Homo sapiens: one gene and its partners. The protein of the gene in region 7 purifies or fractionates together with the protein of the main gene of each other region. This does not show direct contact. Each region holds a gene or a part of one and is shown on either strand. Other genes may lie near its edges.

Region 1 (4,520 bases), on a different chromosome or scaffold from region 7:
AACCTTCTTAATGATTTACTATTTTTCTTTCCTGTTACATTAACATTGTGGGTGGTTTTTTTTGCATCAGCCAAATGTGTCAGGGGAAAAAAGAAGCCAGAAACAGGATATTCTCAAGTGTCAAATTAATCTGTATCACTCACGATTTCAAAGATAAAGCTCAAATTCTATCCTTCCTTTCAAGTGTTTTGTGAATTCCTGTTTTCTATACTATTTATTAGTACTACAGTGAGTATTATAATGGCACTCTCAGTTACAGAGTTCACAATAAGACTTGGAGTACTAAGTTTAAAATGTAATTTGCTATAAAAACAGGTTTTAGCATATATCTAGCTGAATAAATGTGGTTTACAAATCTCTGGGTACCAATTTTCTACAGTGCTTTAAACGTTAGAATTTTAAATCTTAGGAAAAATGGAAATTATATTTCTGGATAAGTTTTATATCATGGTCTAAACCATAGATGTGACAACTCTCACTAGGTGAATTTGGACTCTCACCTATTGAGATCCAGTGCTCAAGATGAATCAACATGGGTTTAAATTCTAACTTGCCGCTTATAAGCTGTATAATCAGAGATAGGTTATTTGGCCATTCAAAGCTTCAATTTCTAATCTGTAAAATGTGGTAATAATCGTACCTCCTTCATAGAATTGTTCTAAGGATTAAATAAGATTATGCATCTAAATACAGTATAATATAAATTTGTTATATAAGTAATATCATATGCACCTTGTAAATAAGGAAAATTTGTCAATATATCACAGAAGTCATTTTGATTCAAATATAGTTTTTTCGTAGCTTTTTTTTTTTTTTTTTTTCTTTCAATAGACTGGAGTGCAGCAGCATGATCATGGCTCACAGCAGCTTCAAACTCCTGGGCTCAAGCAATCCTCCCACCTCAGCCTCTTAAGTAGCTGGGACTATAGGCATGTGACCATCATGCCTGGGTAATTAAAAAAAAAAAAACATTTTTTTAGAGACGAGGTCTTGTGTTGCTCAGGCTGGTCTCAAACTCCTGCTAGCCTGTTGATTTTTGAGCCACTAAGTAACAACAGCTTAACATGAAGTATATGAAGTCAGCTAAACACAACAGGGCCAAGGAAAAGTGTGAAGAAATTAAATTAGCTGGGCATGGTGGTGCACGCCTGTGGTCCCAGCTACGCAGGAGGATCACTTGAGCCCAGGAAGGTGAGGCCGCAGTGAGCCATGATTGTGCCACTGCACTCCAGCCTGGTGACAGAGTGAAACCCTGACTCAATCAAAAAAAAAAGAAAAAAAAAGATGAAAATGAAAAAAGGGTTAAATATCTTCAAATTTTTAACTGCTTAATAAACAAGTTATAAGTGAACAGTCAACAAACTCGTTTGTATCACTTCTTCATAGCCTTGAGAAAATGAAAGAATATAACACAGCTACCACTTCAACCACTGATAGTAATATGCCACAAGGATCTGAGACAATATGCATCCATTGTGTACCTACAAGGATCTGAGTGAATAAGCATCCCTTGTGTCCCTACAAGGACCCCAGTGAATATGCACCCTTTGTGTCTCAGAGCTCATATACGGGACTGATGTGAGCTGTGAAACACATGGGATGAATACTGAGCGTTCATAAGATCATAAAAATAACTGTAATCATTTATTTAAAACCGTTTTGACTACACGCTCAAATCTATCCTAGCTAAAAAGTAATTTTTTGAAATTCCTTTAAAATCAACTTGTACATTAATATACACAATGCCCATTTACTCCAACATCACTACTTCTTGGCTCAGTTTGGCTATTTTGTCCTAGATGATCTTACTGTATGATTCTCTCTGATCTTCGTCTATGCTGCATATGTTTCCTTAATTCAACAGTCTCAACCTTTCCTTTCCATCACATTACCTTCAAATCTTTCTTTAAAAATGAAGTTCTATATCTCCTGGAGTATTTAATAAAGATTTAACATGAATTTAACTGTGCTAGTATCATTATTGTTTTTATTAATGCTTTCTAAGAAAGTTGCTTGGGTTTTCAGTGGTCTGTTCCAGGACTATTCCCTCCACTCCTCATCATCCTATCATTTTTATTGTGTAATACTGCAGAATGTGAGGTTTTTAAGGAGTGCATATTTTGTGCTATAGTAGAAATGCCTGTATTGATTTAACATACTACTTGCCACAAAATAAAAACTCAAGTATCTATTACAAATAATAGTTGAATACAAATACTGTCACATTCATGGGTTAGTAACCACCCAATGACCAAAACTTATTAAAAATTATAATCTACATGTGTTCTTTCTACTATACTTCTAAAATTCACCTTCTCTGTTTAAGAGTTTAGCTTTAACTCTAAGAATTTGTTTTCTGAAAGATAATTTAAAGAGACAAGTCCTGATCAATTCTTAAAAAGTGATGGTTTCTGGCAATTTATCTCAAATTTTAATCTATAAGTAGGATTAGGACTATGAATTAATTTGGCATACATATTGATTCAATATTGTATTTTTTCATTAAAATAGCCTTAACAAACACAGAAAATCAAATCAAAACCAGAAATCTTATCTCAACAGATGCAGAAATAAAATGAGATCATCCAAGAGTTCTCCTGGTATACTTTTGTTTTGGAAAGAAAAGAACTTCAACAATTCAACTTTGATAACAGATTTAATATATTGCAGGTTTGAACAATGGATTATTTTGAGTATGATTCTAAAATTATGTAATAATCAAACTTTTAGGTATTTTTAAAGTGGAGGTTATTAAAGAAAATTTACGTACTAAGGGACATATATTTTTGGATGCTCTACTGGTTTTTATTTCTAATTCTAGTATCTATAAGCAAAAGCTACACCTACTTTTTTAATAGTTACATTTTGCTTATTTTAAAATTCTGGAGAGACCAGAGTTTTGTATAGACAGATGTACTGGCAGAATCAAGTATCCTACATAGAAAATTTTAAATTGTAATATAACTTTGATTATCATCCAGCAACTAATAAACACTAAATTTTACTATAGCTATGGTTTAAAACGGTTTTTCAGCATAAAAAACGGTTTTTCAGCATAAAACAAATATCTAAAATTTTCACTTCTCTTTAAATAACTGATACATGAAAGCATAAGAAGGATACTTACTGGCTGAAGCCTGAGGTTGCATACGAGGTATTCCTCCGTTTGGCACTTGAAAATTTGAGTCACTTCTGCTGCTTTTCACTGAGTCAACTTGTGTATTAGATGTTCGGGACAGGTTTGGAAGACTGCGTCTTAGTTTTTCTGCAACAGAATTTTAATTTTAAAAAAATCATATTCTTTCAGATGGAGAAAATTAAAATATTAACTAGCATTCAAAAATCAAATTGTTTATCAAACATTCTGTTTATTTTAGATGAGAAAATACAAAGGACTTGTCTTATTAAAAAAAACAAACAACTCGATCTAGGATCTGTTAAGTGGGTAGAATAAGAGAACACTTAAAGATAACCACAAATTTTATATTTAAAGCAAAATCTAAATACAGGTAACTTCATAAAACAATAAAGCAAAAACAACATAACCAAGTAAAATGAAATTCACTTTCTCTTTTATTTTTGTAATGATTCACTATTAATAAAATAGTAAACCTGACTACACTCTTGATTTACTTATCTGAAATACAAAAACTTAGCAAAAATTGTATTACTTTCATAGTGAAATATAAAGGACACTTTTTCTCTTTTTTTAATCTAGAAACTTTTTTTTTTTTTTTTTTTTTGAAAACAGGATCCTGCTCTGTTGCCCAGACTGGAGTGTAATGGTGTGATCACAGCTCACTGTAGCTTTGAACTCCTGGGCTCAACCAATCCTCCAGCCTCAGCCTCTCAAGTCACTAGGACTATAGATGTGCACCACCATGCCCAGCTAATTTTGAAAATTTTTTTCCTAGAGACGGGGTCTTGCTATGTTACACAGGCTAGCAGAAACTGTCTAATTATTAGTAAAATCTGCTATTTTACCTTCATTTTTAACATTGCTTGTCTGTAAATCTGTGGGATGGCCTTGAAGTGAAAGGCGAGGTTGCTGTAAGCGGCTAATCATAGGCTGTGGGGACACTCTACTATATTCTATTCCCCGAGCAGGAGATCGTGAACGAGGTGAATTTCTGGGTGACTGCTTAGGTGACGGTCGAGGTGAATTGCGTGGTGATGGTGAAAACCTGTTAACAGCAGGGTATACTGCATGATGCATATTGTCATCTTCATCATCTAAACTTTGTGCATCAAGTTCCTGATCACTAAAAGTACCCCGTCTTGTAGAATTGCAAGATGAACCAGAACTGCGCCGAGACGTGGTGGCTGCATATTCTTGCCGGAGACCTGGCAACAATGAATGTTATTTATTTAAACAATATTTTTAAACATTTAAATAATTTTAAAATTTAAAGTAAAAGATTATCACTGAAAAATTCAAAGAGGGTGTAAAGTGTAAAAGAAAACTCCCTTTCTGCTTTTAGACTTATATAGGCTTATATGTCCATATAAGGAGGCATAAA
Region 2 (4,520 bases), on a different chromosome or scaffold from region 7:
ACCGCACTCCAGCGTGGGTGATGGGATGAGACCCCCCCCACCATCTCTTAAAATATATGTTCTTCAATTCCACTATGGTGAATGTAATGTATTTGTAACAGTATTAACAAAATCTCAAAGTGGAAGAATCAGTACTACTCTGAGGAAAGGACTATCCAGCCAAAGAGAAGCATAGATTTTCTTATGAATCACTGGCTAACTCCTTGGGTAAATGTCTGTCCTTCCTCTAAGTTTCTGGGTTAAGCATGCTCAGGATTGTCACATTTTTCTATTCAGTCTCATTAGAATTAATTCATGACTAAGATATCGCAAAGAATATAGGCTTTTACAAAAATTTTGTTTCATTATTTAGATGCTTTATTGTTATAAATTTACTGGCATTTCATTATACTAATATCCTTGGGGAAATGCTTAAGAACAATATTAAGAAGTTCTAGAATGATGTTATGTTTGTAACATCCCTTGAATTGAATCCTGGAACTTACCTTACACCAAATTCTGTATTATAAGGGGTTGGTCATATCAGAGCAACTCTACAAATCGTAAACTATACACCAAGCATTCATGATGAATATTCTTAGGTAGTTGTTTGAGAAAAATTCTTGGGTAAATGTGTAAGAAAAATGGTAGAAATATTAGAAAGATATTATAGTTACGTAACCCTTTGAATGTAGTCATAGATAGAACATATACCAAATTCTCTATTATAGATCAGTTATGTTATAGCAAAGCTACAAAGTATAAATAATACACCGAACATTTAAAGATTCAGCCAGTCAAAATGAAAACCCAAAGTAAACTCACATTTTTAAATTCAATTTAAAGTCCCATTACTATTTCTTTATTTTAAAAGTATCTCTTTAGGTATTTCTGGTTTCCAATGATGGAAGAGTAGCTCCTAACAAATTCTCCTGCAGATAACCAGTATAAACTCAGGCCAGGGGAAATCAAGAAAAAGAAATTAAAGGTAAATATTTGAAAAGGAAGAAATAAAACTGCCTCTTTCTTGCAAATGACATGACTGTCTATGTAGAAAATCTCAAAGAATCTACAAAAAGCTACGAGGACTATTGAGGTAGTTTTCCAGGGTCACAGGAGACCCCCAGTGCTTAAAGACCTACTTTCAAAGAAAAGAGTAGTATGGAAAGGGAAAAAAATGTAACTTCACAACAAAGAAACCTGGCAAGTACAATGTTGGGTAGGTGATCAAGGTAAACATCAGTGATAAAACATGTTAATAATATGTACTATTATATGAGGTAATGAGAATACTTCGCTTCTGTGGTATTAGCTCCAATCTAACCATGAGAAAAATATTAGACAAACCTAATTTGAGGGACATTCTACAAAATATGTGAATATTATTCAAAATTGTCAAGATATGATAAACAATGACAGAGAAATTGTCACAGACTAGAGGAGATGTAAGTAAATGTAATGTATCCTCTGTGGGATCCTAGAAAAGAAAAAGGGCCTTAGTGGAAAAACTAGTCAAATCTGAATAAAATCTTGAGCTTAGTTGATAGTAATGTATCAATGATAAATATACCATGGTAGGGGCTGATTTTGTGCTTCCCTTCCCAAACTCACATGTTGAAGTCCTAACCCTCAATACCTCAAATTTAACTGTATTTGGAGACAGGTCTTTTAAAGAGGTGATTAAGTTAAAATGAGGCCTTACATCCAATCTGATTAGTGTTCTCACTGGAAGAGACTATGACAAATGAAAAGCCACATAAAACACTATATTAGTCATAAAACCGATTATTTAATTGAAGCTATAAAAAAGGTAGTATAAGTGATAAAATAATTAGGAAAGAATATTTAGCATGTTTCAAAACATTTAAAATAGGAGCAGAACATTTTACAAAAAGTTGTACAGGAAATTAAATTCTTAAACTATCAGTACAAACATGACATTACAGAGTATCTTATAAAATACAAAGACAAATATAAAAGGACTATGATGCTTTAAGTCTGAAAACTATTGGCCAAATATTTAGGTTTAAATTTACAGTTCCTGGGTATGAGAATCATATTACTATATACATCTCCCAAACCAGTAGGTAGTATTTTCCAATTAACCATGTGTGGTATCATCTTCTACAAAGTCTTTGGCCATCTCTGCTGTGATCACATCAATATGACTAACCTGAAGAATAAATGTTAAAAACAAAAATCTGTTAATTACATCAGTGTTTACATTGTATAGGGTAAATATATACAGCCTATCAACTACATTTAACTACATTTTTTAATTTTTAGTTTTTTTTTTTTTTTTTTTTTTTGAGATGGAGTCTTGCTCTGTTGCCCAGGCTGGAGTGCAGTGGCACCATCTTGGCTCACTGCTACCTCCGCCTCCCAGGTTCAAGCAATTATTCTGCCTCAGACTCCCAAGTAGCTGGGACGACAGGTGCACGCCAGCATGCCCAGCTAATTTTTGTATTTTTAGTAGAGACGGGGGTTTCACCATACTGGCCACGTTGGTCTCAAACTCCTGACCTGGTTATCTACCTGCCTTGGCCTCCCAAAGTGCTGGGATTACAGGCATGAGCCATTGCGCCCGGCCTATCACCTATATTTTACATATGAAGGAAAATAATTCTGAAGCACTGACTTATAAAACCTTTATTTACAGTGGTGTTTGTTCAATGCATAGATTTAAAAAATATGTATTTTAATGCTCTGAAGAAATAAATATCATGCCTAAACATCTAAACTACCTTTTTGTTCACTTTCTATTACTTTGCTATTTCATCAAGAATTTTAAGGTTGGGAAGACACCCAGGAAGAGCTATGCAGTCTATACAAATGAACATATATAATTGTTAAAGACTGTGCATTACAGAAGCATTGAATAGACTGGACAGAAAGATATTGTTTATTAATGCCAATGAAAATAAAACCAATGCAACGCCATAAAATACTGCTAAACTTCATAGTTATTTGAAGGAAAAGTTCTTTCTTTACAAAGACATCAGATAAGCAAAGACTTTCTAAGTTTTCTTTCACTATTTAAGTAACATAAAATCAGAATTCAACAAATATAATTGAATAAATACAAACTTAAACTCAATGTAAAATAAAATTACCTTATTTCTGAACTTTACACCATAGAATTTGTCAGCTGACTCAAGCAGTTCAGGCCTAAAAGTAGTTGTAATAAACTGAGCATGTACAGCAAGTTCCATAATCATATCTGTAAAAAGAAAATTGTGCTTTAACAAATTTCTTTTCAGCAGATCTGAAAATTTAAAAAGCAACTATCTTTACTCTTACTAAAATTCAAAACTGCCTGAGTTTGATTTTTTCATATATACATCAGCAAATATTACCAGCTTATTGTTAAATACAAAACCAAAACTGTACTGAAACTGTACCTGACACAGCCTTTCTGTGCTGAGCATCCAGAGCCTGGTCAATTTCATCAAACAAGTAAAATGGAGCCGGGTCACATTTCTGAATGGCAAAAATCAGAGCAAGGGCTACCAAGGATTTCTGTCCACCTGAAAGCTGTTGCATTTCTCTCATTTCACCTTGTTTTCCTGTAAATGACACCTAAAAATAAACATATTATGAGTTAATATCCTAAAGGGCAGAATCACCACCATCTTTCAAAAGTAACTTGCATATAATGCACCAATCAGATTTGCAAAAGATACTATAAATTCTATTATGGTAATGCTCTGAGGAAAATGGAATATAAAGGTATTTTACCCTAATTCCAACTCCAGTAAACTGGTCAACTGATGGGACACTGCTTTGTGAGCCAGAACCCCTCTCACTCTCACCACTCCCTTCTCCTTCATCTTGAGACTGACTGCCCTCCACATCTCCTTTCTTCATCACCAAAGTAGCTTTGCCACCAGGTACTAACTTCTGGAATACTTCACTGAAGTTCTTAGATACCTTAAAACAAAAGCAGATTGAAATATAAATTTTGCTTAGAATTATATATAACACTTAAGTAAAATATTTAAAAGCAACCAATTATTTTTTAATCTTAAGAACAAGGATAACAGACTAGATCCTTCTAAGGGCTGTGTAAAACATTCAAGTTACTGTAAACCTATATGCTAGGTTTGTTCACATGTATTAGATTCACCTGGTAATGAGGAAAACAGCTTTAAAATCTTTACAAACTGAAAAGAGCTGGAAGCTTTTGTCCTCTGTGTGTATGTTTTAACTACAAAGCGAAACATACCTGTTTGAAAGTTAACTGAATAGCTTCATATTTCCGAAGTTCAAGTACATTCATCAGTTCCATGATTGATTTGTAACCCCTATCTAACTCTTCTTGACGCTTTATTAACTTTTCTTTCTGCTCGGAGAAATTTACAAACTGATCCAAAGCCTTTTTGTTAACATGGCTGTACTTCTTTAATTCTGTGTTGCACTGCTCAAGTTTTCGAAACAACTATAAAGAGAAAATATGTATTCATATAAATAAATTTATATACTGAGCAATTTGTAACAAGACTTCAAATTTAAAACCAACCTGTTTGAGGCTCAGTGTCTGG
Region 3 (4,520 bases), on a different chromosome or scaffold from region 7:
CAACATCAATGATATCAACACATTAACACCACTGGATATGTGTAATTGTAAGAGAACAGCAATAATTAGAAGTCACACCACTTCCTAGAACAGCAGTTCTAAAACTACAGTCCACAAACCAGCTGCAGTAGCATCAGCTGGGAGTCTGTTAGAAATGCAGCTTCTCTGATTCCATCCCACACTTGCTGAATCAGAAACTCTAGGGATAGTGCCTAGCAAACTGTCTTTTCATAAGCCCTCTAGAATTCTGATGCATGCTAAAGTTTAAGACTACAGCCCTTAATTACCAAAATACACTTGTACTCAAATAAATCCTGGAGGTAAATGAAAGTAACATCAAAAATGAAGTGCTCCCCATGAGAATATTGTGCAAATAACTGCTGAGGTTATCATATCAGATTACAATACTGTATTTAACGCATTTGTATGGACATCTTACCCCTAAGTAAAAAAGCATTACCTATTTTTACCAGTGAGGTGGAAACTAAAATAAAATAATAAAATTACTATCATTTATGGATCAACTACTAAGCACTGTGCTAGGCACTTTACAAACATATATAAAATGTTTATTCAAATTCTATTATTAGTTCATGAACATAAAATGAATTCTGTTCAACTGAATTATCACATCTACCACATTTGGTGTATCTAATTTTAAAGTACTGTTTAAAAATTACTACTTTTTTTTTCCATTTTAGTTTACTTATGTATGGCTTAGATTTTAATTACATATGGAGTTCTACATGGTTCAACTTTAAGAAATACAGGATCATAAGGATTTTGGCAAGTTAATGAAAAAGAAGCAAAACATGAGCACAAAAGCCTTCAATGTGATAATAAAAATAAACATATTTAGCTTGCCATGACTGGTACAGATATGCAAACTCTGGGTCCAAATCAAGGCTCTAAACTTCCTATCTGAATAAGTACTTTATTTAATCTCCGGTGAGTCCTGTTATTCTCATGGGTAAAATGAAATAGTGTAATACCTACCTTACAGCGTTCTATATAAACAAGGCACTCAGCACAATGCCCATAACATAATATACACTCAATAAATGTTAGGTAAGTAGCAGTAATAATAATAGTACCCACTATGCGGGTAGGAATACAGAGAAAGCAGTGATTTTACGAAATGAAGAAGACAATCTCCAAATTCACTAACTACAATGCCATCTCCATCATCTTTTCCAATTTTTCACCAATAAATTCTGCTTTATTTTTATGATCTCTAAGGACTTCTAAAATCACAAATTGACTCTACTAACTCCAGCAGCTAGACCCTTTCACAAGCTGCTTCCTTTCCCTCTTGTCCATAGCTCCATAAGGACAACGATTTGCCCTATTTTTGTTCACTGCTATATCCCCCATACTTATAAAAGTGCCTGCCACATATCAAACACGCAAGAAAAAGTTGTTGATGTATGCATGTGTGAATGAATGAATGAATAAATAAATAAATGGCATATTTCTAACCACAAACAAAACAAGGAAAACAAACTGCAAAAGAACACAAGGCGATGGTATATAAGAAACAACTAACGAGACAAACTGTATCCTCCAAGGGCTTAGCCACCATGTTAGATGTGGCACATCTGTGATATAATCCCAGGCTACATTAAATAGCCTACAACAGGAGGTGCCACAACAGTCCAGAGCCCCTCCAACATCAACACCTAACTATATTTGACACCTGGATTGAAAGAGGATTGGCAGTGGTGCAAACTGACTAAAAAGAATATTATTTTCCTTTCTTAATAAATTCTTATACTTTCATTCATCCTTACAAATAGAACTGCACAAATTCTCAAATGTTTTTAAAGGAATGTTTATAAATTTTAAAAAAACTTTTTTTAAGGTCTGTATGGTGACTGTTTAAGAAACCAAATTTTTTGTCATCAGGGAGTTTGGCAGTAGGACTCTGAACAAATTCTCATTTCCTATCAACAACTTAGCTGTACAATCTAATAAGCCTCAGTTTCCTCAGTTTTAAAATTTGAAGGTTGAACTACTATATAATCTTATGGTCCTTTGCATATAAACATTCTAAAAAGTCTATACCTTAAACATATTATTCCTCATTCCATAAAAAATCTTGAAAAAGGTGGTGGCAGGGGATAAATAAAACAGAGGGGCATTATATTATCTCCCAGCTTGATACTGTTATAATTTCTACTCGATGGGCACATATACTTCTACTGTAATCCTGAGATTTCTCACTACAGTACTCAACAAAAACTACACACTGGAATTCATAAATTTATTCAGTATATAATTACTAGGTGAAAGGGACTACTCTGGTTACTGAGAATGAAGTAGTGAGCAAGAGACACAGTCCCTACTTTCATGAGCCATGATTACAAATAACAGATGCATTATTTTTAAAAAGTTAGGTAGGTATCTATGACACTGCATGGGTGGGACTGATATTTAACTTGAGCTCTACAGGACATTAACTGAGCAACATGGGGAAGGAGAAAGTGTCTTAGGCAGAGGAAACATCAGTTGGGTCCAGAAGCACCAAGAAAGGATTTCCTTCAGTTAGATTCCTGTGACACTTAGAAGGGTCTCTGAGGCATGAAATCACCTCTGCAAAGAATTTTACTTGCTTTCAGATTCTCTTGGAGGACAGAGTTTCAATGGTATACTGACTGAGGTTCAGTTTTGACCAGTGCCCAAAGATGAGAAGCTTCTAAGTTGTACCATTTCCCATTTAAAAGCAATAGATTTGAAACTTCAAAATTGTACCATTCTCCATTTCCCCAACCCTCCCCTCCAAAATATTGCATGGCAATTATTTTCTTCTAAGTTTCCTCTTTCAATGGTTCCTGTAAATTCTTTACTGAGCCAAAACCACTTTGCAAAGAAAAACTGCTTATGTTTTCAGAAACCCCCAATTACTTTCAAAGCTTCCTCTCTGGCCCCTTGGTTTTATACCGCATGGAGCTATACTATTCAACAGCCATCTGCAAAAGGTAGATGAGCTGTCAACCAATTTTTCTCTTTTTGAACCAAATAAGACAGCCCTGCCATCTGGGCCTCTCTGAAAACTACTGCCCAGATAGTGGAGCTATAAAATCAGAAGCCATGTTGTTTTGGGAACACTTCACTAAGGAGAGAAGACCCAGGCTCTCACTGACCAAGGGAAGGCAGGACTTTATATGTAAAGGCAGGAGATAAAATAAGTCTCTCATTATTAACTTGGGTTTCCAAAGATTTAAGAATTATCTCAAAACAAAACTAAACATGCCAAGTATCTTAGAGAATACATTCCTTTTTTATTTATTGGCATTTCCCACTTAATATTTTAGATCTCCTGCTCTAATATATTCTACATTAAGTCCCTGATTTAAGTTTCATTTAAATTTCTTTCTTTTAAATACATATCTCTCCTCATTTAAATTCTCTAGAGTTTCAAGCAAAGAAGTAGGAGTTTAGTGTAAACTTTTCTTGTTTGCATTAAGTAATTGGATAGCTTGCCTAAGCTTAATGAAACAAATACCAGTCAGTGCTGCCCTTAGACCTCAAGCCCTAGCAACTTAGCTCTTTCCTCAGTATATTGTCAATCAGGCGAGGGACTTAAGGTACACCAGCAAAATGAATTCCTAAAAGCCAGCCAAATCTCCTATAATAAATATTATTACATGTCCTTTTAAATGGGAAAACAAATTAACTACTTATAAAACATTCAACTTTCATGGACAGCAGGTATAAAATCTAGTTCTCTATATTTTAGTCCCAGGGTAAAAACTAGCCAGTTTGACTTTACTCTAAAGAACCTCAAGTTTTTAAGAAAGTAGAAAGAGAATTTTAAAGATAACTTTAGCAAGGCATTAACATATTGAACTTCATTCACCTCCATAAGGGAGGCATTACTAGCTCTAGTTTTTTTGTTTTTTGTTTTTTTGAAACATGGTCTTGCTCTCTTGCCCAGGCTGGAGTGCAGTGGCATGATCTCGGCTCACTGCAACCTCTGCCTCCCAGGCTCAAGCAATCCTCTTGCCTTAGCCTCCCAAGCAGTTGGGACCACAGTTGCATGCCACCAAGCCTGGCTGATTTTTGGGTTGTTTTTTTTTTTGTGGAGACGAGGTTTCAGCATGTTGTCCACATGGTCTTGAACTGGGCTCAAGTGGTCTTGAACTGGGCTCAAGTGATCTGTCCACCTCAGCCTCCCAAAGTGCTGAGATTACAAGCACAAGTCACCACACCAGCTACTATCTCCATTTTTAACATGAGAAAAACTGAGAAGTACAACAGAGGTGTGAAAGATGGTGATCTGACTTCCAAAGTCATACTTCTTAAACATCTTAAAGAGTAAACTTTCCTATAGGAATTAGTTTCCATTATACTACTCACCTTTGTGGTCATGTAAGGACAGTTTTTAAATCTTACATTATTCACGGTTATTTTAAAATAGGCTCTTTTAAAATTTGTGTATACTACACTAAGTCAGAGTTTGCCAGAGTCTAAATTATTACCACCCCTTTCCCAAAGTGGTTTGGCTTTTAATGGCCCTA
Region 4 (3,339 bases), on a different chromosome or scaffold from region 7:
AGAGCCACTACAACACTGCGACTTCATGGCACACACAGTTAGGGGCAGTGAGAAAGGTTTACTTAACTGTTCTAGGCTGTAGCAAGGATGGTTTATGTTTGTGCTTAAAGGTGAAGAGAAGAAAAGAAACGAGAGAAACTTTAAGTCAGATATAGAAAATGAGAATGAGCTCAATGCAGATGGTCAGTAAGCTGGACATGCCCTTGCCACTCTATCTGTGCTTGGGGACGTGCAGCTGGCTTTGCTGGCCACCCAGCTGCCCAGCAAAACCAGACTCGACCTTTCCAGTCTCCATTTCTACTCCAGAGAGAATGTGCAGAAATCAAATCAAACACCACCTGTAAGTCCAGCATTTCACAAGTCTCACTGCAAATGCATCTGGGGGCCCAGGAAACCCAGTTCTATCTTCTAAGGGGATGAACATCTCAAGGTCATAGGCCCTGAGAGGCTCTACAGACCTGAGCTCATCGCCCACCTTCCACAGGTTCCTCTCCTCTTCCATTCCACCCTTACTTCTCATGTAAAGCCAGCCCTAATTTTTAAGGAGGAGACAATGAGAACTGTTTCCAACTCTTCAGCAATACTGCTTTGATAAAAGAAATCCTTAAAAAAAAGAAAAAAGAAAAAAAGAAAAAAAAAAGAATAAGAAAAACACCTTCTCCAGAGAAGATGCAGGTTTCTTTTGGGGGGGTCAGGGGGAGAAGCCCAAGTGGCCCGTATCAAGACACTTTGACTATCCTGATCTCAAAGCTGGGGGCTTCCCTGTGCTAGGAGACAGGACATCAGAAGCTGACCACTAAATAGCAATTTCTGACATGCAAGACCACAGAGGAACAATTATAGACACCCACTGGAGACAACCCCCTCTGCTCTGGACTCTTCTGCCTGAGGGAGAGGCAAACGACCCCACATTGTTTGAATGAACCAAGTATGGAAAATGCTGCCCCACAGCTCTGATTTTGGCAATGCAAGGTGCTGCTGCTCACTGGCTCCTAACCTCCTGGGACTGCCACCTGCTCCCAGGTGGGGAAACCTCCTTCCCACCTGAGGCAGGCAGGCAACAGGGCATGGCAGCAGTGATGGCAGCCAAGAGCAAGAGAGCAGAGTTCCCCCGAGCCTCAAACCGTTCCCAGATAAGATCGCAAATGACACATTTTGAAAGCGAGTTAGCTTTCTTCCCTCCAAAACCCCAAATATGAAAAATGGCCATCAGAGGATGCAGGGAGTCACAAATCTGGAAGATTCATCAACAGATCATACCCCGCTTATCAATTCTTAGGCAGCCCCCAAAGTGCCAATTTGAAATAATTTAAAAAGCAAAGCAACTTGTGACATAAAAGGAGCATTAACTCTAAACAAAAGTAGAAAGAATCAGATGTAGAAAAAGGAATTAGTTTTGCAACATACACATAACCAATCACGTCAGCGAAGGGTTGTTTGTAGAAAGCTTCATCTGCCACCCTAGACAGCAAGAGGTCCAAAAGGCAGGCAAGCAGGCAGGAAAAAAGAGAGAACATTGAGAAGCAGAAACATCTAAAATCCACAATTGAGGTACAACTGTGCTCTGAGGAGCTGCTCCCAAGGCTCCTTCCTAACCCCCGTGAGGCTTCCAGCGCTGGAGACTTCAGCAGGCCTGGTTTCCCGCTGGCCTTCCCACGTGGGGACTGCTCCACGACAGAGCAAGCACTGCCAACTTCATCCCTTTGGCTCACCCCAGCAACACGGGCATTTATTAAGCACCCAATCATGGACTAAGCCCTTTCACATACATTATGTTGATTCAATCCTTAACTGTTAACAACCTATGACCCTGACTGTTCTCACCCCCACTGTACAGATGAGGTAACTGAGGCTTAGAGATGAACAACTTGCTCAGCTACACCACAGTGGCAGCATTCAGGACTCACAACCAAGGCAGCCTGGCCCTAAGTCCAGGGCTCTTTCTACTGTATAGTCATGCTTCTTCCCTGCTGTATGTGCCCAGAAAGCCACGCCACCTTCCTGTTTCAGTTAATGCACTGGGCAGGAATGCTGCCAGACACCAGATGCGCTAGGACCCAAAGCCAGTTTTATCTTGGATTATCTAACTACTGCTTCCCCACACTGTCTGGGTGGGATACACTTCCAGAATCCTGGGAACACATATCGTCATTTTAAAATCTCAACCTTACAGGAAAAAACGGCTGGAGGTGAGTGGTCTGGTGGGAAGAACACTGGACTAGGATCCTGGCCCTGGCTTCTGTTGTTCCTGAATATGGCTCTCTCTCTACTCAAGAAGCGGGTACAGTTTCTGAATATTTTTACACCAGACTCAATTGGCTTTGATAAGGTGCAGCCCAGAATCCAGAACTTCATCCCTTCTTAACTCTCAACATGGCAGGGCTCTCAGACAGGAAGGAGGGGGCAGACTGGGTGGATAAATTTTGACAGCAGGGGCCAGGCTGGCTTTGACTCTGTTGTCCTGGACTGACTCCCTGGGCTCTGCCAGCCCACTCTTCTCCACTGTGGCTGGACATGGAACCTCCCTCATGGAGTCTTACCCTGTCCTTTGTCAAGTCGATTTGGGGTGGGCAAGGGGAAAGACATTTTTCAAGGATAATCATGCCTGGTCATTAAGCTAACCTCACATACTTATTTGAAGGCAAATTCTAGTAATTTTAAGTTAATTTTTAAGCTCACACATGCCCTTCCTTCTTTCCCATTTTGTTTTATACACAGGAGGTGTTTTGTGGAAATTTAAAGAAAGCAAAAAGAGCAGGCTGATTATAACTTAAAGTGACTCAGCAGGAAAACAGAGTTGTTTGTGGGCAGAATGAGTGGGAGGAAAAGGCAAGGCAGGCTGGCTTATAAACCCATAACCCTTTTAGTTTACACAAAGGACTAAACCTGATCGATTTCAACTTGGGTTTCCCTCCACAAGAAGAGTAGAGGTTTCATGACTCCTGTCAAATCATCACTAAGACAACAAAAGTTTGAATGTCAGGCTCTTGCTCCTTTGCAGCTAGCCCAAGACCAAAGAGCTCCTCAGTGACAAGCACATCCCCTGTCAAGGTTGCAGGCCCAGAACAAACAGAAAATCAGACACACACACAGGTGGCCCTCCCCTTATTTGTCCTTCACTTGAAAGTAGCAATCCTCAGCCAAGGCAGGAAGGGGCTCAGGGAGGCTTAGGAGAGGGGAGGGAAGAGGAATACCTGACCTAGGACAAGCTCTGGAGGCACGAATACAATGCAGAACTTCATTCCATAAACAGCCTCAAAGTGGGCACAGAAAAAAATGTTTGCCATCTCTGAGAACTGTGGGTTCCCCAAACCTTCTCAAGCCTTGAAAGAGCTGACA
Region 5 (4,520 bases), on a different chromosome or scaffold from region 7:
AGAGAATACCCAAGAGAAGCCTAGCTGGAAAGCAAAGTAGCTAGATACTCAGGAACAATATAATACTTTACAAAGAAATGTGATTATTACAATAATACCTTACAAAGAAACTTTATCTTTCTTTTAAAAACATTAAGTCATACGAAGGTCATGCCCCTAGTCTTCACTGGCTGACACCGACTTTGTAAACTATTAAAACTTTCTGTTCAAATTTTAAGAGGCAAATTCACCTTTTATTGAAAGCTATAGGCCAGGCACGGTGGCTCACACCTGTAATCCCAGAACTTTGGGAGGCCGAGGTTGGTGGATCACTTGAGGTCAGGAGTTGGAGATTAGCCTGACCAACATGGTAAAACCCCGTCTCTACTTAAACTACAAAATTAGCCAGGTGTGATGGTGCATGCCTGTAATCCCAGCTACTTGGGAGACTGAGGCAGAAGAATGGCTTTCAACCTGGAAGGCAGAAGTTGCAGTGAGCTGAGATGGCTCCATTGCACTCCAGCCTGGGGGACAGAGAGACTCTATCTCAAAAAAAAAAAAAACAAAGAAAGCAAGCTATAAAATCTGTGCTGCCATATGACAGTGAGTGAAAAGACAGCAGGTTAAAACAGATGTTGTTGTTGGTAGCATCCTTGAAACAACCCAACATAAAACCAACCAGAAGCAATTGCAGTTTCAAACTCCCTGCTCACAGGGGAAGTGGTGCAGAGACTAGAGACTCCTGAGAACTGTTCTGCAGGAGTCTCTCCAGCCACACCCCTATGCTAATCTTACAAAGCTTCATCCTTGAGCAGCAGGGAAACACTGAGTCCCCAGTCAAAGCAATGGGAAAGGAGGCTCACCACTCATCATGGCTGTCAGCACAATGGCCACAGCACTGGCAAGAATTTTTACTAACATATTATTTATGGTGTCACTGCTGCTACATGTATACCCCATAAAGCCTCATATGGACACCTACATTTAAATGAAACCAGATCCTAATAGACCAAAAAATTAAGGTACCAAATTGAAAATCAAGAGTAGTGAAAACACTGGAGTCTTCTCTTTAGACAAAACATACAGAGTCAATAAATCGGGACTGCCTACTGCAGCTTTTACTATTTTTTAAGTTTTTCTTCCTGTTGATAGGGTCAGATTTTCAACTCCCTCCACTAATCAAAACCACGACACTACGTCATTGATTCACAGTAGGAAACGCAACCAATTAAAATAAAGCTAAGTGTTATTGCTCCACTAACATATGATTTCCCTCTGAAGTCTATTCTATTTTTAATGATCGAGAAAGGTATTCAATACATTTTCATATCTCTTCCAAGAAGAGGATTACTCAAGGAAATGTTTCAAAATCCATTACTGTTTTTCCTTTGAATCTGTACGCTTTTAAGATTGAGTAATTATCCCTCCTGCCAATGAAGAGGTGCTTCTAAATATTTTAGAAGATATAAGGAACATAATTACCATTCTCTATCATGAATGGAAATGATCAGTGGCGTTGCAGCTACCACTGATACCCAGTGAAAGAAACGGTGATAAGAAACTGTCACCTGCCAAAAACTATGGTGCTATCTGAAATGAGTTCATCTGAGTTCTGCTAAATATTACTCTTCAACATTAATTTAAACAGTTCCAAGATCTTGATAGATTAGGTGAGAAACTCCTTTCAAAGAAATTTCACTGAGGTAGAAATAGCATCAAATCTAAATTTTTCTCTCAAGTTAATTGCAAGAGACTATTGCTGATAAAAGGGCAAAGTGGCAGTACAGTTTCTGAAGAAAATACAAAGGTAAAGAAGGCAACAAGAATGGTGGTTCATCCTTTAGCCAGCATAAGCGGAAGAGGTCTCTCAGGTTCCATGGCTGAACTCCGTTTTCAAACTGGAGTAACAGCCCACCTATGAAAAAGACACAGGAAAAAGAGTCTGAAATGTACTTGGTGGGTTTGTCTGAAAGAAGAAAAAAGGCCATTACTGAATATAAATAAAAGCAAGGCCTTTAACCAATATTCATTCAAGGTAGAGAAACAAGTCAAAGATTCCCTTCACAATGACAGCACCCTGAAAATCTGAGCTCTCAACACACCGTTAGAAAAGCTACCATTTGGGTCCTCAAGCTGCCTGCTCAGCAAGTGCAACTGCTGTGGGTGGAGGAGACCTCTGAGTCCCTTGTTTGAGGCTGCAGTTTGGTTTACGGGTTTCATTCCTTCAAAGCACATGTCCTCCTCTTGATCTGACATGTATCCTGGGGGGCTGGGGACACCATCCAGCGTCACTATAAACTTGGGACTTGCAGGTTTATCTGGTTGTACAAGATCTCTGCCAGACAGATAAAAAATACCATAGAATTAGGGAAACAAACACAAAACGCTGAGCCCCCTAAAGTGCTCTTCAGCAGAACTATCACTCCCTTGGCTTTGCGTTTGGTTCAATAAAAAAAGACTAGGTAGGGCTACCAGGTGCAGCACTGGTGGGTTCTCTGCTAACACACGATGGCCATGAACAGTCACAGTGGCATCACCAGTGACCCTCCAGCCTGTACTTACTAAGGACAATCTCCCCTCAAGCCTGACCCCATCACCCATTCGATCTTCATAGGGTCAACATGGAAACAAACCAAAAAATTAGCATCAATGCTCAGAACACAAGGGCCAGCAGCATTTATGCTAATTATCTGTATGTTTCTTCTTTTATAGAAACAGTCAATTTTCTAAGGGAAAAATCACCCAAACCTGATCTGCCAACTCTCTTTAGAGCTGACCTGATTATGGTCAGCTGGCTTTTAAACTTGCATTTCCTGAATTTGCATAAAGAAAAGAATCTTTAATAGAGTTAAATCATACACTGAGTTGTAATTTGTAGGTTAATGGATTTCTGAACAAGAAAGATGAACTGGAATTCTTGAAAACTGAATTTGGCTAACTATTCATGGGCTAGCTACTGAATCAATGAAAGCACTCTACGCTAGCGGTTAGGGCGGGGAGGAGGGAAGCTGCAAACGAATGGTTAACCTTTACTATCTAATCACACAAATTAACTACACAAGAAAAAGAAACCATCTACCGTGTCTGCATAAGGTGTCCTGAAAGTACCCGAAGGGAATCTGCAGTCTTCATCCCCGACTCTTGGTTTGGTGCCACTACTACTTCCTCAGACAGCTTTGGCTTCTTCAGAATAAATGATCTTGTGTCTGCATGGACCATGGATTCCATGTCATAGTAATCTGAGCCAAAAAAATTGGCCACAAATGTTTACTTTTGAATATACCTTACATTCCCAACATTATATATGTGAGAAGAATGTCAATCTTTTATATATTCAAATTATTTCAAAGGAAAATCACAACTGGTTCCACTCAGGAAAACAGGGCTATAATTCTATTCCAAACATGTTTTCAAAGAACTCAAGGAGTCCTTCTCGCGTAGGGCACGGCACAAGTGATTCTGATTAACACTCCCTAACCACAGCAGAGAAAGGTTCTCAGGTGAGGCATCTCAACAGATATTAACAATATACCCTTAAAGTACAAAAATCTTTTCTAAAAACCTGGAGAATTTGAGTCCTAATGCTCCCTATAATTAGAATACACAGACTGCTGAACCACTTTTCCAAAATCTGGTTTGTTCACTTCGCACAGTACCACTTAGAATCATGTCCTGATAAAAAGAATTCAAGTGGTATAATTTCCAGTTGGTTATAAACCGAGGACTACTTTAAAAGGTAACTGAAAGGTGAATGGACACTTAAACATATGTATCAAGAAAAACACTGGCCTTTAATGCAAATAACCATAAGCTCACATCATCTACTATTTTATAAAATATGCCAAGACCTACAACCCAGAATGGCTGACCTATCAATACGCCATCAACGGACTGAAGTTAATACACTTCTTTTAAAGCTTAGAGACCAAAATTTACAGGGTATTCATTTATGTTCATTCACTGAGTATTTACTGAACAACTAAGAGAACTGAGCTAGATACACAAAGAAAAAAAGAAAAACAGACACATATACAATTTCAGAATAGCATGACCCAAAAGGGATGTGAACAAGGTGCTGAGAATACAGAACAGCCCACTCCAGCCAAGAACCAACGAAAAGCTTAGCAAGGAGGAACATCTGAAGTCAGCAGTAAAGGAACAAGCAGGAATAAACAAGGAGAGAGACTCGGAGAAACGAACACAGCACTTCAGGCAGAGGAAAACGCACGTAGAAGGAAAGGGGCTTTCACAAGGCCGAAGGCATCTGAGAAAGGTTAGAATGTGGAATGGCTGGAAGGGTGTGTGTGGTGGGCTCAGCAGTACATACCAAGGAAGGCTGACACATATAATAAAGGTTCTTCTATGTCTCAGTGACTCTCGATTCTGGTCTATAATTAGTAAGAAATCAAGTGGCCTGGTGTGGCGGTTCATGTCTGTAATCCCAACATTCTGGGAGGCCAAGGCACAAGGATTCCATAAGCCCAGGAGTTTGAGACCGGCCTAGGCAACATAGTGAGACCTCCCATCAACCAGAAAATAAA
Region 6 (4,520 bases), on a different chromosome or scaffold from region 7:
CCAAACTGGGTTCCCTGTGAGGAGAGGAAAAAGGTGGCTATTTTCCTTGAGTTCAAAGCCCTTTCCTTCCCTTGACCCCCACCCTCATCAGGGAGGGCCCAGCAGATTAGATGGCTGCTGTGTACCAGGCACAGTGCTAATAAGCTCAACAACGGATTATTCCGTTAATCCTAAAGACAGCCCTATGAGAAACACTGTTGTTATTCCCATTGCACAGAGGAGAAAATAGAGGTCTGCAGCTTAGCTGGAGACAGAAACCTAACTAGTGACCCCCAGAATTCCAGCCCAGGTCCAGCCAACACCACTGCCCACCTCTGCACAGAGCTGCCTTTCTGCCTTCCTCCTCCTTTCCTAACTCATGGCACACGGCACAGTGTGCCTCACTTCACAACAGCGCACTCCCCCCACCACCCTACACTAAGCATTTCCCCCCACCTCCCTACACAGTGCACCTCCCCTCCCCCACCTCCCTACACAGCACACTCCCCCACCACTCTACAGAGCACACTCCCCCCACGACCCTACACAGAGCACTCCCCCCACCTCCCTACACGGCGCACATGGCGCACCTCCTCCCACCACGCTACACAGCACACTCTCCCCCTACCATCCTACAAAGCGCACCTCCCCTAACCACGCTACACAGTGCACTCCCCCCACCACCCTACACATCGCACTCCCCCCACCTCCCTACACAGCACACTCCCCCACCTCCCTACATAGCACTTCCCCCACTCCCTATACAGCGCACCTCCCCCCACCTCCCTACACAGCGCACCTCACCCCACCATGCATCTCACAAGACAGCACACCTCCCCCACCTCCCCACAGGGCGCACCTCCCCTGCAACACAGGGCACCCCACAGCCCAGCAGCCGGGCGCACTCACCCAGCAGCCTAACGTTTGGGTGAATTGGAGGGTGGGAGAGGGCGAGTGGGAATCTGAAGTGTGCTTCTCAGAAGCACTGTTTTATGGCGGGAACGGGTGCGGGCCCACAGGGGTAAAAGGTCACACAGCCAAGTCAGACTGAGCCAAGCCCAAGAACTCGGGGGTCCCCATTCCAGCCAGAGTGCGCTACCACCCATGTGCAAGAAAATGCAGGAGAGCCCTCCAGACCCCCTTCTCCCAGGTCGGTGGGAGAGGAAAGAAACTCACCTCCCAAGAAGACTGTGACTCGGAAGTCAGGCAGCCCCGGGAGGAAGCCTCCCCTGGGTGACCCTGCTCAAGTCCCCTAACCTCTCTAAGCCTTGGTGCCCTCATCTCTAAGGTGGGGTGATAACATCCCCCTCACAGGGCTTCAGTGAGACATACGTCAGATTTGACACCAAAAGCCCAGTGCACGATGCATGGCACACCTCAAGCCCTCAGTGACTGGCCACTCCTCTCCCCCTACCCCAACCAGACTGCTGACATCGACGCTGCCTGGGAACTTCCCGCCCACAAGCCAGAGGCCAGCCCAGCACTTATTTCTGGGTTGGCTTTGGGAAAATAAGAACCAGTTGTCACTACAGCTGCCCTGAGTGAACCGGTGACACATTCTCCCAGCTTCATGGTGGCCCAGATGCAGGAATAATGACAGCTCCCCTGCCCTGCAGTTTCTAGAGTGAGAGGCCATCTATGACCACCCCACATGGGTTTTGGGGAGAGCAGGAGACTGCTAGCTGGTCCTGCGTGAACCAGCACTTCCAACGGCTGCTGCCCACCCAGAGGACCACTTCACCACGTCTCAGTGGCATGGCATGTCCCAGCCCCTGTGCCCCAGGATCACTCTCCTGCCGTCAGGTCCTTCCAGGGACAGCCCCCCGGGACATCGGCTCCGAATCACACTGCCTTTTTTCTTGCCCTCCCTATTCAAGCTGGATGTCCCATCAGCTCGGCTCAGCTCAGCAGGGTGGCATGGAGAGAAAGGGCACCCCAAGGCAGGACCCATAACAAAGCCCCACTCCATACCCCACCAGGCCAGGGTACGAGTCCCATTTTACAGGCTCAGGGGAAGGTACCTGGCCAGAGTCCCACCACTAGACAGTGGCAGAGCCAGTAGTGAAATCAGATCTTTTGATCCGAATCGACTGTTCTTTTCTGAATGCTCTGACGGAGCCTGAAGGCCAGCATCGCTGGTCACCCAGACCTTTCTTCTCGTCTCCCCAAAATCCAATCTATGAACAAGTCCTGCCAGCTGTGCCTCCAAAGTAAATCACAAAGCTGTTTTCTCTCTCTATCCTCTGCCACCATCCTCAGGCTGCGGCCTGCAGGCTGAGCCTTCTACCAGGTCTTCCCGCTTGCCGAGTCAATGCCCTCCAGCCAATCCCACTTAGCCAGATCCCAGGCCAGCTCTCTATCATGGCCGCTGAGGCCGAGGCCTGTGGCCTGTAGCCCTCTCGTCCCTCATTCCAGCCGCAGTGCCGCCTCACTGGCCTTCCCTACAGATCACTCCAGGCCCTTTCCTACCTTAGGGGTCTGCACCGGCCACTGGCCTCACTGAAACGCTCTTCCCCCTGTCTCCTGAGGGCTGGGGCCTCTGCACCCTGAACATCTCTGGACAAGCGCTGCCACCTCCCAGCCCTCGCCCATCTGTTGCAGCCCCTCTCCAGCTCACTGTTCTGTTTCTTTCTCCTGACCGCTACTGCCACCTCAACTGATCTTCCTTTCCTTGTTTGCTAACCATTTCCCTGCCATGCTCACCCCGCTCTGGCCTCTAGACCGTGAGCGCGATGATGGGGATCACATGGGCTTCATCTGCTCCATGTCCAGCACCCAGCACAGAGCCCCCACTGAACTCCGCCAGGGCCCCAGCCTGACAACCTCACACTCTCCAGCCTCATGATCCTCGCACCCTCCTCCCTCCTGAGAGATCTTCTCAGGCCCGGCTTGGACATTTCCCAGTCAGACTGGATCTGAAAACCAGGCCTGAGAGGGGCCGCGACCACTCCCTCCCCTCTGCCTCTTGTCCCTGTTCCTAGCAGCCCTCCAAAGGCATCGTCCACCACTGGCAAGAGCTCGCTGGAATGTGTCCTCAGTGATTAATCCTTAGGACACCCCACCAGTCCAGGGCTGAGACAAAGGTTCAGGCAGCTTATCTCACCGGGCCAGCTCTCTAGGAGGGAGGCAAGCGCCCTTTTCAGAAGGAAGGAAATTAGCTCAGGACAAATTCTGCTGTGGAGGGAGCCTGCTGCAGGCTAGGGCTGCCTCTGGGGCCTGGACATACTTGGTTCTCCTGCTCCACTCCTCATGCTGGAGGCGAGGGGAAGCGTCGGGAGGCCGAGCGTGCCACCTCCTCGCAGAGCCCTAGCCCCAAACTTACCGTCCACTTCCTGGTTTCAGAAGCTTCCGTTTTGCCTGACTCGCGATCGATCTCTTCTTGCAAGGCCTTTCGCCTCACCTGAGCAAGAAGGATGACAGAAGAGGGCCGTCAGACAGAGATCTTCTTTCAAGCTTAAAACCCAGGACAGAGACGGGGCTGGGGGAACGGAACGTGGGAGGAACTAACACAGCTTGACTCTGCTACAAACAATGGGAAGCTGCTATCATAAGTATTCTCTTAGCATCTCAAGGGCTGCGCCCCTTGGCCTACACTGGGCAGGCTCATTTATCCTCTTTAGCCTCTTAAGAATGAATTTTCCTAGAAACTGAGGCTTAAGAGCTTGCAGTGAGCCAAGATCACGCCACGGCACTCCAGCCTGGGGGACAGAGTGAGACTCCGTCTCAAAAAAAAAAAAAAAAAAAAAAAATCCCCAAGGCCAGAAAGTCCACTTCCCACAGGGATGCATTTGCCACGGGATATGGGAACGACAGAAGCGGAAGCTGATTCACAACAAAACTTCTCCTCTAAATGCTCCTGAATTAGCCCAGGGGGTGGCAGCATGTGTCACCTGCCCAGCTGCAGGGTCTTAGGGACATGTCCCCCACATCCTGCAGCAAGTAACAGGGAATGGCCAGTCGGGCCTCTCGGCCATGGCCACGGCAGCCGGAAGGGCCCCCAGCATGAGGATGGGGAAAGCACGCATTCCCGGCCCGGGAGGTGTGCGTTGGCAGCTGGCCCAGTGGCCTCTGGAGTCCCTGGTGCCCCTGAGACCAGGATCACCTAGCCAGCCTGGCAGGCAGCAAGTGAGACTCCAAGGGTGGCAGGAGGCAGCGGGAGGGGCCTGAGGAGGGTCTGGGCTGTACCTGGTCTATGTGCGCCTCATCCATGTTGCCTTTTTTTTCCAACACCACCTCTAAGTCCGTGTCTGTTTCCTGCAGGAGAGGGCAGAGCTGGCTAAGGTTCAAGTTTACAATGAATGGCCTCTGCCTCTGCACCCAGCCAGGGTGAGACCATGACAAAGTCCAGAAAAGACCTCAGACCACGGCATCACCCCCAGCCCTGCCACCTAGAAACATCTCAGTCAGCAAAGCCCTTCCCATCCCTTCTCTTCCACAATTCTCCCGCAAAACAGTAGTACTAAACTATTTGACGGATGAAGAAACTGAGACTCAGACAGGTAAAGTGACTACAAGGTTACCCCACGGCTCAGGGACTGGTG
Region 7 (4,520 bases):
CTCAAGGTTTGCAGGTAAAAAGGAACATTCCACAAACGTCAGCACATGTGACTGTCACAGCCACCTTACAGAGAGGAACCATTATCCTCGTTTTACAGATATGAAGACTGAGGGATGAATGATTAAGTCACACCAAATGTGCACAGTTATGATCTTTTGGTGCCTCCAAGTCCAACGTGGTGACTGAAACCTCCTGTCTTCCAGATGCCTCTGGGTGCCCATGAGGGCTCAATAATTTCCCCCGGCCTCCTCTGCATTGAGGCACTCATACTCCAGGTGAAAAGCGATTCAAGAGGAAGCAGGAGACGCCCCTGGTCACTAATATCACCCAGTTTGTCAGATTCAGCTCAGGCACTGAGCAGTGTCCGGAAAGGCCAGATTCCTGGGAGGGGAAGGGTAGCCTGCTTCTGGAGGGTGCAGCCGGCTTTGGGGCCAGGTGTCCGGCAGGGGCAAGGCTGGGAAAGGCCCTCAGGGTCGCCTTGACTGGACCCAGTGCGTCAGGAATCCACACAGGGCTCTTAGCCCGCGCACATCAGAATTACACCCAGGCTTTCCCTAAAGACCTGCTCAGGCCTCCTCTGGAGAATCAAATCTGGGGCTTGGAGGGCTTGGCACATGTCTGTGGATACAGTGGAAACACACTCTGTGTATCTGCCATCCGGCAGGCCCTGATTCTCCTGCTAAACGTACCCGTGTCACATAACTCGACCCCCGGGGCCCACAACTTCCACCTCACGATGAATCAGAAGAACAAGACTCTCCGGACTCATGTCTGAGCACAGACAAACGTGCATTGCCCTGACCACAGAAGCCCCATCAATGCCCTGCACCAGCTGCCTGAGTGTCCCAGCTGCCTGGCTGTCCAGCTCTGGCCTGGCTTCCTTCCTCCTTCTGCTAAAGAAAGACCCCTGACCCTAGAGCTGCCCCCGCACCTCCTGAGGGCATCCATCCAAGCAAAGTCCAGCTTCCTCAAGCCCCTCTCACTGGGCCCGAATCCTGCCCTAAGTCCCTTCTCTCTCGCCGTCCCATATCGCTCTCCCCATGTGCACCTCCCCACGGCAGGGGTCACAGCCCCCGCAGGCAGGTTCCTGAGGGTCCTGGAGTGAGGGCGCTGGCCTGGGGGTGCTGAGAGGGAGGACTGGCTTATGCTACACAGCCAAGCGGGGCAGGGAGGCTGGCGTAGGGCCAGCAGCCTGGTCCTGCCTGGCAGTCGGTGTGGGTGGCTCCTGGGATCCCAGCACCCGAGAAGAGGTGACTCTTGGGTTGTGGGGGTCTCAGATGACCAGTCACCCCAGGCTGACAGTTCCCAGGCCCTAGGCCCTGGCGGCACCAGCCAGCAAGGACACAGCACTGATGACAGTTTTAGTTTGAGCTGAGCACTCAGCCGAGGAAGGCCTAACCACTGGGCACACAGAGAGTGGATACAGGAAGCAAGGGGCTTGTTTGAGCTCTCAGAGAAGGACCTGGGCAACAGACCTTGAGCCAGGCCTGCAGAGAGATGGCTGCCTTCTGGCCGAGGTGGGCCTGGCTTGATCGAGGTGTAACTGACGCACAATAAACTCACACACTGGAAGCACAACCTGAGGGTTTCGACCGGTGCACAGTCAGCAGCAAATCTCCACTGCCTCTGTCCTTCCTCATCTGCCCTCTGGCTTCCGCCCACGCTCACCTGTCCCCAGGCAGCCACTTGTGTGCTTTCTGTCACTGTAGGTTCGCATTTGGGATCACACCGTAGGTCTGGCTTCTGCCACTGGGCCTGGTTCCCTGGAGGCCCATCCGGCCTGATGTGTATGGCAGCAGTTCCCTCCCTCCTAGTGCTGCTCTGTGGATGTGCCACCCTGTGAGTCGCTTCCAGGTCTTCTCACAAGCTTGAGTCCTCACACAGAGGCAGACTGTACCACTTGACCCAGCTTCTCCCACCAGCCACACCCACTATGCTCTGAGGAGGATGTTCTCATAGTCAGCATGCCTCTGTAAAAACACACTTTCTAGGCTGGGTGCAGTGGCTCAAGCCTGTAATCCCAGCACTTTGGGAGGCCGAGGTGGGCAGATCACAAGGTCAAGAGATCGAGACCAGCCTAGCCAACATGGTGAAACCCCATCTCTACTAAAAATACAAAAATTAGCCGGGTGTGGTGGCGGGTGCCTGTACTGGGCTCCCATGATCCTCCTGCCTCAACCTCCCAAGCAGCTGGGACTACAGGTGTGTGCACCATGCCACGTTAATTTTTTTAAAAACATTTTTGTAGAGACGGGGTCTCCCTATGTTGCCCAGGCTGGTCTGGAACTCCTGGGCTCAAATGGCCTCCCAAAGTGCTGGGATTACAGGTGTGAGCCACCGTGCCCGGCCAAAAACTCACTTTCTACCTAGAGCAGGAACTTCGGCCAGCAACATCAGGCAGCATCACACTTGGCCAAGTTTCAGAGATGGGTTTCCATTCAACCCCACTGGTTATAAGTAAAATATAGCGGGCCGGGTGGCTCACGCCTGTAATCCCAGCACTTTGGGAGGCTGAGGAGGGCGGATCATGAGGTCAGGAGTTCGAGACCAGCCTGGCCAACACGGTGAAACTCAGTCTCTACTAAAAATACAAAAATTAGCTGGGTGTGGTGGTGGACGCCTGTAATCCCAGCTACTTTAGAGACTGAGGTAGGAGAATCACTTGAACCCGGAGGTGGAGGTTGCAATGAGATGAGATCGCGCCATTACACTCCAGCCTGGGTGACAAGAGTATGAGATTCTGTCTCAAATATATATATATACATATATATATATTTGTTTGGGGAAGACAAAAATAGAGGTTGGCGGGGGATAGCTAATAGTTGTTGGGTGCTCTCTCCACATGCTTTCCCTTGGTTTTCTTATTTAAATTTTCACATGCCCCTGAGAGTGAAGGGGTTACATGAAGGTGCCCCAGGGCACAGAGCTCTATGGGAGAGTGGACCCACCTAGGGGCCATCACCATCACAAAGGGACCCTGGGAAGAGGGGCAGCTTCCAAGGAGTGCTCCAAGGAGACCTCTTCTCGAGCATGGGCAATCTTTAGTTCACAGGCAAAAAAGCTGTGGAAGAGAGACAAATCGACCCCTGTGGTACAAACGTGGCTGATACCCAAGGCATTTCAAGCTAGCCAGGGTGGGACAGGGTCTCTAGGGGTTTACTGCCGGGGTTTGCATCTGGCCAACAGGGCTGTGCCCACCAGGCAGGGCGCCCCGCCTCCTTTACAACAGGGCAACGTGAGGGCCGGAGGGCCTCACAGGCAGCACCATCCCCGTCTGTGGAGGGTCCCGGAGCCAGGGATGGGCCAATGGGCAATATCGTTTAAACCTCACCACCTTATAACTGGCAGAAGGTGAGGGGCAGCCCATTGCAGAGATGAGGAAATCACATATGGGATCCAGAAAGACACAGCACTTCTCCTGAGCCAGGGAGCTAGTTGCGCTCAGCGGGAGAAGCAAACAAAACGTATGGGGTCAGCGACTCCTACAGGAGACCCAGAGTGAATTCAAACCCTCTGCAGGGTCTGGTACCTTCCCAGGTTATAAACAGTGGCTGGAGTCTCAGGAAGGGCTGAGGACACCTGACTGAAGCCAGTGGGAGGACAGGGACACAGAGGTGGGGCAGGCTGTGCCCAGCCCATACCTGGAGAGCAGGGCTGTGCTCCACCCAAGTTTGGAGAGAAGGTTTCAGGAGTTCATGTCTCTAGAAACATCAATCTGGGGCCCTCTGGATTCAGGGCCCCCCTGGGGCTCTGACCTGGCCACACACAGACTCAGCGCATTTCCCGAGGATACGCTGTGCTCCAAACCCTGGCCCTGCCCTCAGAGCCGACAGCCCAGAGGGAGAGAACAACCTTTGGAGATGCCAATTATGTCCCAACAAGCAGGGGGTGCTTGAGAACTTGTGTTGTACAGAAAGACCATCTGGTGAGGTCAGGGGAGAGCCCAACGGGGCAGAGGCAGGGTCTGGAGGAAAAGCACAGGTGGGAACCGTGCCCCCCCTTGGAAGAGCAGTGGGGGAGAGGAGGCCTATAGCACGAGGAAGCACTGGTGCCTCTGAGCAGCAACGCAGCCAAGGCTGGCAAGTCCAGGTTAGCAGGAGGCACAGCCCAGGGGAGGCACGGAAGGCCTGCTGGCAGACAGCTGGCTCCCCTGCCGGGTCTGCCCCACCCACTCCACCATGCAGGAGACCAGCCTCTGTAGGGTTCAAGAGGGCAGCCCGCCTCAGCTCAGGGTCTCCAGCCTTGGGTTCCTGCTGCGACCTTCACCCAGAAGAGTTCAAGGATGTAGGTGGCTCCCTGGCAGAGGCCCCAGGAACCTGGAGTTTAGACCCTCCTTCCGCCACAAATGTGGAGGGGCCAAGTGAGTCCTGGAAAATTTCTCAGTCATACACCATGAGTGGGTATTGGCTGCCCCGTGCTGAACAGCTGCTGGGACTGGGGAGAGGAGGAGATCCCAATATAACCGAAAATCTGGCCCCATCTATCTTGAAAATAGAAAGGAGGCAGATATCCTCTCGTC

What was found.
Region 1: the proteins of ARHGEF4 (region 7) and SLAIN2 purify together in Homo sapiens (affinity purification with mass spectrometry; one large-scale study listed by BioGRID and IntAct). This does not show direct contact.
Region 2: the proteins of ARHGEF4 (region 7) and SMC3 purify together in Homo sapiens (affinity purification with mass spectrometry, with the first as the bait; one large-scale study listed by BioGRID). This does not show direct contact.
Region 3: the proteins of ARHGEF4 (region 7) and CHCHD3 purify together in Homo sapiens (affinity purification with mass spectrometry, with the first as the bait; one large-scale study listed by BioGRID). This does not show direct contact.
Region 4: the proteins of ARHGEF4 (region 7) and CLTA purify together in Homo sapiens (affinity purification with mass spectrometry, with the first as the bait; one large-scale study listed by BioGRID). This does not show direct contact.
Region 5: the proteins of ARHGEF4 (region 7) and ZC3H14 purify together in Homo sapiens (affinity purification with mass spectrometry, with the first as the bait; one large-scale study listed by BioGRID). This does not show direct contact.
Region 6: the proteins of ARHGEF4 (region 7) and KNOP1 purify together in Homo sapiens (affinity purification with mass spectrometry; one large-scale study listed by BioGRID and IntAct). This does not show direct contact.

The regions. Positions count from the first base shown.
Region 1 is NC_000004.12:48,382,392-48,386,911, reverse strand, and holds part of SLAIN2 (SLAIN motif-containing protein 2), read right to left. Parts: intron 4,345-4,520; coding exon 3,985-4,344; intron 3,266-3,984; coding exon 3,128-3,265; intron 1-3,127.
Region 2 is NC_000010.11:110,601,863-110,606,382, reverse strand, and holds the end of SMC3 (structural maintenance of chromosomes protein 3), read right to left. Parts: coding exon 4,499-4,520; intron 4,418-4,498; coding exon 4,205-4,417; intron 3,910-4,204; coding exon 3,718-3,909; intron 3,559-3,717; coding exon 3,381-3,558; intron 3,200-3,380; coding exon 3,093-3,199; intron 2,153-3,092; coding exon 2,081-2,152; 3' UTR 335-2,080; downstream 1-334. UniProt on the Homo sapiens protein: Central component of cohesin, a complex required for chromosome cohesion during the cell cycle. The cohesin complex may form a large proteinaceous ring within which sister chromatids can be trapped.
Region 3 is NC_000007.14:132,977,094-132,981,613, forward strand, and holds part of CHCHD3 (MICOS complex subunit MIC19), read right to left. Parts: intron 1-4,520. UniProt on the Homo sapiens protein: Component of the MICOS complex, a large protein complex of the mitochondrial inner membrane that plays crucial roles in the maintenance of crista junctions, inner membrane architecture, and formation of contact sites to the outer membrane.
Region 4 is NC_000009.12:36,207,389-36,210,727, reverse strand, and holds part of CLTA (clathrin light chain A), read right to left. Parts: exon of another isoform or gene 2,174-3,339; intron 1,462-2,173; coding exon of another isoform or gene 1,408-1,461; intron 104-1,407; coding exon of another isoform or gene 68-103; intron 1-67. UniProt on the Homo sapiens protein: Clathrin is the major protein of the polyhedral coat of coated pits and vesicles.
Region 5 is NC_000014.9:88,600,622-88,605,141, reverse strand, and holds part of ZC3H14 (zinc finger CCCH domain-containing protein 14), read right to left. Parts: intron 3,219-4,520; coding exon 3,059-3,218; intron 2,315-3,058; coding exon 2,082-2,314; intron 1-2,081. UniProt on the Homo sapiens protein: RNA-binding protein involved in the biogenesis of circular RNAs (circRNAs), which are produced by back-splicing circularization of pre-mRNAs.
Region 6 is NC_000016.10:19,707,208-19,711,727, forward strand, and holds part of KNOP1 (lysine-rich nucleolar protein 1), read right to left. Parts: intron 4,234-4,520; coding exon 4,165-4,233; intron 3,380-4,164; coding exon 3,302-3,379; intron 15-3,301; coding exon 1-14.
Region 7 is NC_000002.12:130,843,068-130,847,587, reverse strand, and holds part of ARHGEF4 (rho guanine nucleotide exchange factor 4), read right to left. Parts: intron 1-4,520. UniProt on the Homo sapiens protein: Acts as a guanine nucleotide exchange factor (GEF) for RHOA, RAC1 and CDC42 GTPases. Binding of APC may activate RAC1 GEF activity. The APC-ARHGEF4 complex seems to be involved in cell migration as well as in E-cadherin-mediated cell-cell adhesion.